2 separate regions of the Homo sapiens genome follow, and region 2 is linked to region 1. Evidence: fine-mapped expression QTL. A gene starts in region 1. The other region holds a variant in brackets. All regions are shown on one strand. Distances are between the middles of the regions.

Region 1 (5,377 bases):
AATCCCAGCTACTCGGGAGGCTGAGGCAGAGAATTGCTTGAACCTGGGAGGCAGAGGTTGCAGTGAGCCGAGACTGCACCACTGCACTCCAGCCTGGGCAACAGAGCGAGACTCCGTCAGGAGGCTTTCTTTCAGAACAACTAACCGAAAAATCATGCAAATTTAGAGTGAAAAAATGTAAAATAAGAAATTTAAAGCATTACAAGATTAATTTTAATGTAACTGGTCAGTTTGCACATCTGTAAAATGACAGTTTGAAACTAAGTGATTTCTAACATCCGGTCTACTTCAAAGTCTAAAATTCTATGATACGCAAATTTCTTAAACTTTGAGTTAAATATACTAGGTTGTTTAAAAACTAAATCTAAGCTTATTCTGATAATTCAAATAACCCTGAAATGTTAGAATATCAATATCCCATAAACGATTCAGCAGTACTGTTTTCAGACTTCCAGTTAGTATGTGTCCAGAACAAATAAAGAGCAAAAATAGCTATTTTCTCTTACTTTGACTGCTAATACTAATAGCATACAAAATAGCTACTCACTGAGAAGGCATCATAAAAGGCTCTATTGTTACAGAATCCTAAAAGTCTCACGAAAATAAGAGAAACATCATCAGCTAACATCACCAGGCCAAACACAGCTCATTGAAAATCTTAAATTCTGAAATATTTAGATTAAATGAAAACTTCGAGATATTTATCTGTTACGCAAAACAGGTAGCACTGCTTCACAATCTGAACATCACCGTATAGCTCCTTTGGTTAAACAGAAAAAAACTTCCCATGGTACTCTTTCCTCCTAATTCTGCCATTCTTACTATGCACAATGCGTATTTTCCATGTACTGTAAGAGAGATGCACTACACAGAAGTATCCATGGGGACGAAATTTTATCTACACTGAAATTTAATGTGGGATAAGTAAGCTTATCATAATGGAGTTTTACACAGAATGTGTATTTCTCAATGTAAAATGATTTTGTGAAGTAAAGGGGGAAAAAATAGAGGAAGTTTGTTTCCTTAGAATCTCCACAATTACGCACTTTATTCTTAAAATAAGGGACTGGTCTGCAGGATTAACAAATCTTACAGTTCAAAGACAGATAAACATTGGAAGGCCAAAAGAAGTAAGCAAAATAAAAACGATTACCATTAAAAACTCTTCCCTTGGCAGTTTTCAGAGAGGGTTAAAAAAAAAAAAAATTTTCCTGATTGTCAGGCTGACCCTGCTGTCATATTTGCCATTTTTATAAACCCACTAGTTTGATCAAGAGCCCTATCTTTAAGAATAACTTTTAAACCATGCATTTTTAGAGTTAATGAGGCAATAACACTATAGTATTACAGTTGTAGCTCAACAACTGTTAGATACTACAGATTAGTGATCCAGAAGATAATCAAACTTTATCAGCAAAGTAGCAACCACACCCCTTAAAAACAGAACTCACCCTGTGCTCCATTAACTTCCATAAAGGGAACTTCGATGAAAATCGATTACTTCATTGCTTGGAACTAGCATGTTTGTTTTGGAATTACACTAACGTTTTGTAAACACTGTCTCACGGTAAAGCTAATGACTTTACCTCTTTCTGAAACAGTTTTAGGGAAGAAGGCACCATATATTACGGTGAAACTGGGTCTTAGTTTACATAGCGATTATTTAAAAAATTCACTTCCACTGTGCATTACAAGAATTAAAGCCGTTTAAAAAACTCAACCAAAGCCCAATGACAATGTATTACTCTAGGAAAAGTGTGTCCTTTGGGTTCTAAGGCATTAAATTGGAATTTAATATTAAAATAGAATTCAACGGCTAAGTATCCAGTTTCCCCCAATCACTTAATTTTTCAAAACCCAGAAAGGGCCTGTTTGCGAGTATTGTGAAAACCTGTGGAAAGAGAGGCTTTGGAGGGGAACGGTCGAATTAAAATAAATGCAGAGAGCAAAGAGAACTCCGAGTTCTTTGAACTCCCCCAGGCTGAACAGGACGAGAAGGAACCCTACCTGCCAGCGGCCATAGGTGAGGAGGACCATAGAAATGGGGATGGCGGTGCCGGACATGGCATGGGTGGAGGGCATGCTGTACTCAGAGTTGTAGAAGACCTCCAACTTGACCACGGGCGGCGAGGCGGGCCTCGGCCAGCGGATGATGTCCTTGGTGCACTGGCCCAGGTACATGACCAGCACCCAGATGACCACGAGCCTCCGGCCCACCAGAGGGTCCAGGTTCCAGATCCAGAAGGGGAAGAACAGGATGTAGAAGAGTTCGTTGCCCAGCTCCGTGCCGAAGCAGAACAGGCAGTAGAGCGGCCAGTTGCTCACGCGGGCCAGCTGGCCCTCCTCGCCCGTCAGCGAGTTGCGGCGCAGAGCGCCCGCGCGCCGCGGCGAGGCCGGGCCCAGCTCGGCCGCCAGCCCGTTCCGCACGCCGTTGGGGGCGCCGCCGCCGTCCGGCTTGGCCGGGCACTGATTGCGGTCGCTCCCGGGAGGCTGGGGGCCTCCAGGCGCCCCTGGCTGCCGCCCTCGCAGTCGAGGGTCTCCGGCGAGAGGCGCCTCCGCTTTCTCATCCTCCCTCCGGTCTGCTGAGCGGCGCGGCGGCGCTTCCACCCCGCACAGCCGCTGGAAACGGGCCACTTTCTGCGGGTCCTGCAGACGGCCAACCAGCTGGGCCAGGCGCTGCCTCAGCGACATGATAACGGAACCCCCGGGAAGGCGGGCCGGCCTCCGGCGCAGCCCCGAACTGTCCCCGCGCTCCTGGCCAGCGGCAGCGGAACCGGCACAGCGCTCTACCCTCCGGAGTCTGCCGGGTGACGGCGCCACAGGCCGCGCGCCCCCGCCCCGCGCGCGCCGCGCCCCGCCCCGCCCAGCCCCGCCCCCACCCGGGCTCCCTGAGGGGCCGGGCCGCGCGGGTCCGCCCTGAGCGCATCCGGCCGTGGCTTGGCGCTGAGGATCGGCGGGCGGCCGCTTTGAGGTCCCGGGTAATATCCACCAGCAGGCGTCGCGGCGTACGTCTGGTGGGACGCGGCGTGTCCCCCTGCTCCACCTTCAGCCCTTCTTCTCCGCGGGCTAGTGTCGCCGGATTCCCTCAGCCAGAAGTTGACTTAAAGAGGCCACGATCCCGGTGCCAGCTTGCGCAATGCCTGTGACCAAGCAGCCGGGCATCCTGCTGGCACAGAACCAAATGGTGAATGATCAATGAAGGCGAAGCAACTACCATGAGTTCGGAATCATTCGACTCAAGTAATTAACAAGTAATTACAGAGCTGTCCCAGGCGACTGATGTTCGGAAAACCATGTGCCAATTGACCAGTGGTGACAAGACTACATGTAGATCCCAAGACAGGGCCAGGTGATATTAACAGGTGTGGTCTGCAAAAGAAAAGCCAGCCACCTACAAATTCAAAATACTGTGTCATTTATCAAATATTTTGGTATATGTTAAGGGAGCACAGGTGTTCTTAAGTGTAAAATTTCCTTTTCCTAGATTCTAATACCTAGAGGGCTTGCACAGAATAAATGTAGAGAATGAATGCAGTGTATAGATTTTTGAGTTTGGTAACGTTAATTTAGACGCTTAACTTCCGTGTCTCACAAGTTACCAACTTGACTTCTAGCTAGAGCAGTTTATAAGGTCTCTGAACTCCTCAGGTCAGGTGAATGTCTTTTATATATACCTAGAGAGAGAGAGATGAGACAGGGTCTCGCTATATTGCCCAGGCTGGTCTCCAACTCCTGGGCTGAAGTGATTCTCCTGCCTTGGCCTCTCAAAGTGCTGTGTTTACAGGCGTGAGCCACCACACCCGCCATGATCAGGTGAATGTCTGTAATTAAAGAATGTGAACTACTTCCAAGAAACAGGCTTGAAATTGTCCCATGCCCTTAAAACAGTAGAAATACTTTCCTTCAGGCGTGGTAGTTCATGCCTATAATCTCAGCACTTTGGGAGGTCGAGGAGGGAGGATGGCTTGAGTCCAGGAGTTTGACAACAGCCTGGGCAACATAGGGAGATCCCACCTCTACAAAAAATGAACAAAATTAGCCGGGCAGGGCTGGGCACAGTGGCTCACGCCTGTAACCCCAACACTTTGGGAGGCCAAGGCGGGCGGATCACCTGAGGTCGGGAGTTCAAGACCGGCCTGACCCACATGGAGAAACCCCGTCTCCACTAAAAATACAAAATTAGCCGGGCGGGGTGGTGCATGCCTGTAATCCCAGCTACTCGGAGGCTGAGGCAGGAGAATTGCTTGAACCAGGGAGGCAGAGGTTGCGGTGAGCCGAGATCGCGCCATTGCACTCCAGCCTGGGCAACAAGAGTGAAACTCTGTCTCAAAAAAAAAAAAAGAAAATTAACCGGGCATGGTGGCCCACACCTGTAGTCCCAGATAACTGGGGGACTGAGGCGGGAGGATTATTTAAGCCCGGGAGGTCAAGGCTGCGGTGAGCCCTGATTGTGCCATTGCAATTCCAGCCTGGGTAACAGAGTAAGACCCTATCTTAAAAAAAAAAAAAAAAAAAAAATTTCATTTCGCAGGGACAGGTACTCTCCTCCTCCCACTCCACTTGCTAGGCTGTGGCCATAGAAAGAGGAATAAATCATCACCCATGCTCTCAAGTTGTTCACAGTTTAGGGGAGATAAAGAAAGACAGGACTACTTCTAGAGTATAGAGAAGATGGCAAGTGTAAAACAGACATAAACAGCATGCCTCAGAAAGGAGGACAAGTTTGACTAGGAACAGGAAGAAAGGTGTTAGGAGGTGATCCTGTAGAGCTGGATTGTTTTACAGAGCAAAATATGAATAGGTGAAGAAGCCCATTTTAGGAAGAGAAAGTGAAGGAAGATAGGGATATGCAAAAATGTATTTGGTAAACAATAGTCCATAGAGACCAGGTGCAGTGGCTCACTCCTTTGATCCCAGCACTTTGGGAAGCTGAGGTGGGAGGATCACTTGAGGTCAGTAGTTTGACACCAGCCTAGGCAACATGGCAAGACCCTGACTCTACAAAAATATTTTCTAAAAAATTAGGTGGGGGGCTGGTGCAGTGGCTCATGCCTGTAATCCCAGCACTTTGGGAGGCCAAGGCTGGTGGATCACTTGAGGTCAGGAGTTTGAGACCAGCCTGGCCAACATGGTGAAACCCCATCTCTACTGAAAATACAAAAATTAGCCAGGCATGGTGGCAGGTGCCTGTAATCCCAGCTACACGGGAGGCTGAGGCAGGAGAATGGCTTGAACCTGGGAGGTGGCAGTTGCAGTGAGCCAACATTGTGCCTCTGCACTCCAGCCTGGGCAATAGAGCTAGACTCAGACTAAAAATAAAGAAAAATAAAAAAATTAGCTGAGTGTGATGGCACATGCCTGTAGCCCTAGCTACTTT
Region 2 (5,377 bases), 90 kb before region 1:
AAAAAAAAAAATGGATTCACAGCAGAATTCTACCAGACATTCAAAGAATTGGTACCAATCCTTTTGACACTATTCCACAAGATAACAAAGGAACTCTCCCTAATTCATTCTATGAAGCCAGCATCACCCTAATACCAAAACCAGGAAAGGACATAACCAAAAAACAAAACTATAGACCAATATCCTTGATGAACATAAATGCTAAGATCCTTAACAAAATACTAGCTAACTGAATCCAACAACATATCAAGAAGATAATCCTCCATGATCAAGTAGGTTTCATACCAGGAATGCAGGGATGGTTTAACATACACAAGTCAATAAATGTGATGTACCACATAAACAGAATTAACAACAAAAATCACATGATCATCTCAATAGATACAGAAAAAGCATTTGACAAAATCCAGCATCCCTTTATGATTAAAACTCTCAGCAAAATCAGCATATAAGGGACATACCTTAATGTAATAAAAACCATCTATGACAAACCACAGCCAACATAATACTGAATGGGGAAAAGCTGAAAGCATTCCCTCTGAGAACTGGAACAAGACAAGGATGCCCACTCTCACCACTCCTCCTCAATGTACTACTGGAAGTCCTAGCCAGAGGAATTAGACAACAGAAAGAAATAAAGGGCATCCAAATCAATAAAGAGGAAGTCAAACTGTCACTGTTTGCTGAAGACATGGTCAATTACCTTGAAAACTGTAAGGACTCCTCCAGAAAGCTCCTAGAACTGATAAAAGAATCCAGCAAAACTTTTGGATACAAGATTAATGTACACAAATCAGTAGCTCTTCTATACATCAACAGCGACCAAGCAGAGAATCAAATCAAGAACTCAACCCCTTTTACAATAGCTGCAAAAACAAACAAACAAACAAAACTTAGGAATATACCTAACAGGCTGGGTAGTGGCTCAAGCCTATAATCCCAGCACTTTGGAAGGCCGGGGCAGGTGGATCACTTGAGGTCAGGAGTTCGAGACCAGCCTGGCCAACATGGTGAAACCCCATCTCTATCAAAAATACAAAAAAATCAGTCAGGCGTGGTAGTGCACACCTGTAGTCCCAGCTACTTGGGAGGCTCAGGCAGGAGAACTGCTCAAACTCGGGAGGTGGAGGTTGCAGTGAGCCAGAGCAAGGCTCTATCTCAAAAAAGAAAGAAGAAAAAAAGAATATACCTAACAAAGGAGTCAAAAGACCTCTACAAGGAAAACTACAAAACACTGCTGAAAGAAATCATAGACAACACAAATGGAAACACATCCCATGTTCATGGACGGGTAGAATCAGTATTGTGAAAATGACCATGCTGCCAAAAGCAATGTGCAAATTCAATGCAATCCCCATCAAAATACCACGATCATTCTTCACAGAACTAGAAAAAACAATCCTAAAATTCATATGGAACCAAAAAGGAGCCCGCATAGCCAAAGCATGACTAAGCAAAAATAACAAATCTGGAGGCATCACACTAACTGATTTCAAACTATACCATAAGGCCATAGTCACCAAAACAGCATGGTACTGGTATAAAAATAGGCACACAGACCAATGGAACAGAATAGAGAACCCAGAAATAAACCCAAATACTTACAGCCAACTGATCTTCGACAAAGCAAACAAAAACATAAAGTGGGGAAAGGACACCCTTTTCAACAAATGGTGCTGGGATAATTGGCTAGCCACATGGAGGAAAAATGAAACTGGATCCTCATCTCTCACCTTATACAAAAATAAACTCAAGATGGATTAAGGACTTAAACCTAAGACCTGAAACTAACAATTCTAGAAGACAACATTGGAAAAACCCTTCTAGACATTGGCTTAGGCAAGGATTTCATGACCAAGAACCCAAAAGCAAATGCAATAAAAACAAAGATAAATAGCTGGGACATAATTAAACTAAAGAGCTTTTGCACAGCAAAAGGAATTGTCAACAGAGTCAATAGACAACAACAGAGTGGGAGAAAATCTTCACAATCTATACATCTGACAAAGGACTAATATCCAGCATCTACAACGAACTCAAATCAGTAAGAAAAAAAACAAACAAGCCCATCACAATGTGGGCTAAGGACATGAAGAGACAATTCTCAAAAGAAGA[T/C]ATACAAATGGCCAACAAACCTATGAAAAAATGCTCAACATCACTAATGATCAGGGAAATGCAAATCGAAACCACAATGTGATACCACCACACTCCTGCAAGAATGGCCATAAGTGAAGAATAAAAAAACAAGAGATGCTGGCGTGGATGTGGTAAACAGGGAACACTTCCGCACTGCTGGTGGGAATGTAAACTAGTGCAACCACTATGGAAAACAGTGTGGAGATTCCTTAAAGAATTAAAAAGCAGAACTAACATTTGATCCAGCAATCCCACTACTGGGTTATCTACCCAGAGGAAAAGTCATTATTTGAAAAAGATACTTGCACACGCATGTTTATAGCAGCACAATTCACAACTGCATAATCGTGGAACCAATCCAAATGCCCATCAATCAACAAGTGGATAAAGACACTGTGGTGGGTGTGTGTGTGTGTATATATATGTGTGTGTATATATATGTGTATATATATAATGGAATACTACACAGCCATAAAAAGAAATGAATTAACAGCATTTGCCATGACCTGGATGAGACTGGAGACTATTATTCTAAGTGAAGTAACTCAGGAATAGAAAACCAAACATCATATATTCTCACTGATATGTGGGAGCTAAGCTATGAGGACACAAAGGCATAAGAATGATACAATGGACTTTGGGGACTTGGCCGGGGGAGGGGGGGCAAGGGATTAAAAGACTACAAATATGGTGTAGTGTATACTACTCAGGTGATACGTGCACCAAAATCTCACAAATCATCACTAAAGAACTTACTCATATAACCAAATACCACCTGTACCCCAATAACTTACGGAAAAATTTTTTTTTTTTCAAAACAGCCTCGCTCTGTTACCCAGGCTGGAGTGCAGTGGCACGATCTTGGCTCACTGCAACCTCCGCCTCCCAGGTTCAAGTGATCCTCCTGCTTCAGCCCCCCAGTAGCTGGGACTACAGGCACGCACCATCATCCCCGGCTAATTTTTGTATTTTTAGTAGAGACAGGGTTTTGCCATGTTAGCCAGGCTGGTCTCAAACTCCTGACCTCAGGTAATCCACCCGCCTCGGCCTCCCAAAGTGCTGGGATTACAGGCATGAGCCACCGTTCTTGGCCAAAAAGTAAGTTTTAAAAAAAAGTCACTGCCCCCCCAAAAAAGAAAATTACAAGAAGCTACATTAGCTGGGCACTGGGTTGCATGCCCATAGTCCCAGCTAGGAGGCTTACGTGGGAACATCAGTTGAGCCCAAGAGTTTGAGTCCACCATAGGCAACATAGTGAGAACCCTATCTCTAAAAATAAATTTAAAAGTAAAACAATAATGAAACTACAGAATAAACAGTCTTTTCTCTAGAACAGCAATGCTTAAATATAATTCAAAACAGCATCAACCATGAACATATAAAACTGAATGCAAAAGTCACATAAAATTTTAAATTATAAGATTAGAATTCAAAGAAATTTTACTCTTCTAAAGCATTAATTCAGGCTTTGTTTCCAAATATCACAGGAATATTCATTTACCTTTGCTATTAAAGATATTCCAGTGGAAAAATTGGCGAAGCTCCAACCTGTGGTGACTTAGGTTATTTTCACAGTAATAAGAAAGTCTAACTCAGCAACCATTTACTGTGAATTTGTTTTTCTCTTATAGTCCCTGTGAGACTTTATGGGATAGGATGTTTTACTCTTCTTTATACCTTCCTGTGGTAGGCTGAACACTGGCCCTCAAAGATACAAAGGTCTTAATTCCTGGAATCTATGACTGTTTCATTATATGACAAAAGGGACTTTACAAAGTATGTTGAGATGGAGAGAGTATCCTTGTTTATCTGGGGGGGTCCTTAATATAATCACAAATGTCCTCATAAGAGAGGCAGAGGGAGATGTGACTACAGATGAGAAAGTGGTATGATGATAGCATGATGTCCTGTGCAGAAAAGAGCCACAAGCCAAGGAAGACAGGCAGCCACTACAAGCTGAAAAAGGTAAGGAAATGGATTTTCTTCTCACAGCCTCCAGAAGGAATTGGGCCTGCAACACTTTGACTTTAGTCCAGTGAAACTGATTTCATACTTCTGACCTCCAGAACTAAAAGACAATAAATGAGGCTGAGCATGGTGGCTCATGCCAGTAATGCCAGAACTTTGGGAGGCCAAGGTGGGAGGACTGCTTGAGCCCAGGAGTTTGAGACCCACCTGGGCAACATAGCGAGACCTCATCTCTACCAAAAAAAAAAAAAAAAAAAAGGAAGAGGTGACTCTCTTGAGTACATCTGCACTCCCCTTTCTTAAGTGTGTACTTTTCACCAAAGGAAAAAAAAAAAAGAAAGAAACAAAGGCAGAAAGAATAAATGTGTGTTATTCGAAGTCACTAAATCTGTTGTAATTTGTTACAGTAGCTATATGAACAAAATACACCCTTTTGACAGTTTGGCGATAATCTGTACATAATCTGCCCTAAAATATTGAACAGAATTAACATAAAGACCATTCCAGTTCAGATTTATCAAAATTCTCTTGTATTTTCTACCAAGTAAATGAAAATATCTTAAACACATGGAAATCACTGAAAATGTAGTTCTTTAAAGCACATAGGGAAAAAGTAAAAAAGCAGTAGCATCTTCAGTCGTATTTGCAGCTCATAGTGTCAGTTGCAGAAAAAGTAGTCATGACTTTAGTACAAAAGTACAACTCAAAAACTTCACGGGTTTGGCACAGTGGCTCGTGTGTAATCCCTGCCACTTGGGAGGCTGAGGCAGGAGGATCACTTGAGCTCAGAAGTTCGAGGCTGCAGTGAGCTAAGACTGTGCCACCGCACTCCCGTCTGGAAAAACACCCTGTATTTACAAAGTGAGAGAAAAGAACCCAAAAAGTAGTTACATGGGCTTGATCTTACTTTTGCTTTACAATAGCTACAACAATCTAAGGTAAGAATACAAACCAGGTAAGTAACATAGCTGCATTCACAGGAAAGTATTCCTGAATACTGAACAAGGAGATAAGCAGTCCATAGACGTTTCAGAGGATTTCTCACTTAAATGGTACTTGACTGCAAGTTACCACTGTTTTACTCGGCCATAGGTTGCAGTGCAGTCCAGGCTCCACAAGAAAGAATTTGAAAAGCAGAAACAGTCACGTGGCTTTCATCGGTAACATATTTTGTATCTATTAAATTATTTAATCCTCAGAACTCTAAGTAGTCAAGTTTGGTATTTATTTCAATTATACAGGTGAAAAAGCTGATGCTGACTTGTCCAGTCAA

Evidence for each region. PIP is the estimated chance that this variant, and not a neighbour inherited with it, causes the effect.
Region 2: its variant is fine-mapped to the expression of SGPP1 in whole blood (INTERVAL, PIP above 0.99).

What each region holds. Positions count from the first base shown.
Region 1 is chr14:63,725,254-63,730,630 of GRCh38, forward strand. It overlaps SGPP1 (sphingosine-1-phosphate phosphatase 1), which reads right to left and starts at 2,812. Exons shown (of 3, transcript NM_030791.4): 1 at 2,008-2,812. The coding sequence starts at 2,691. RefSeq lists enhancers at 1,958-2,459, 2,104-2,153, 3,114-3,303 and silencers at 2,414-2,513, 2,804-2,903.
Region 2 is chr14:63,635,016-63,640,392 of GRCh38, forward strand. All of the region lies in intron 1 of WDR89 (WD repeat domain 89), which reads right to left. Among named protein-coding and RNA genes, the nearest start is that of WDR89, 4.2 kb to the right of the region's middle. The variant T/C (reference allele first, on the strand shown) is at 2,116.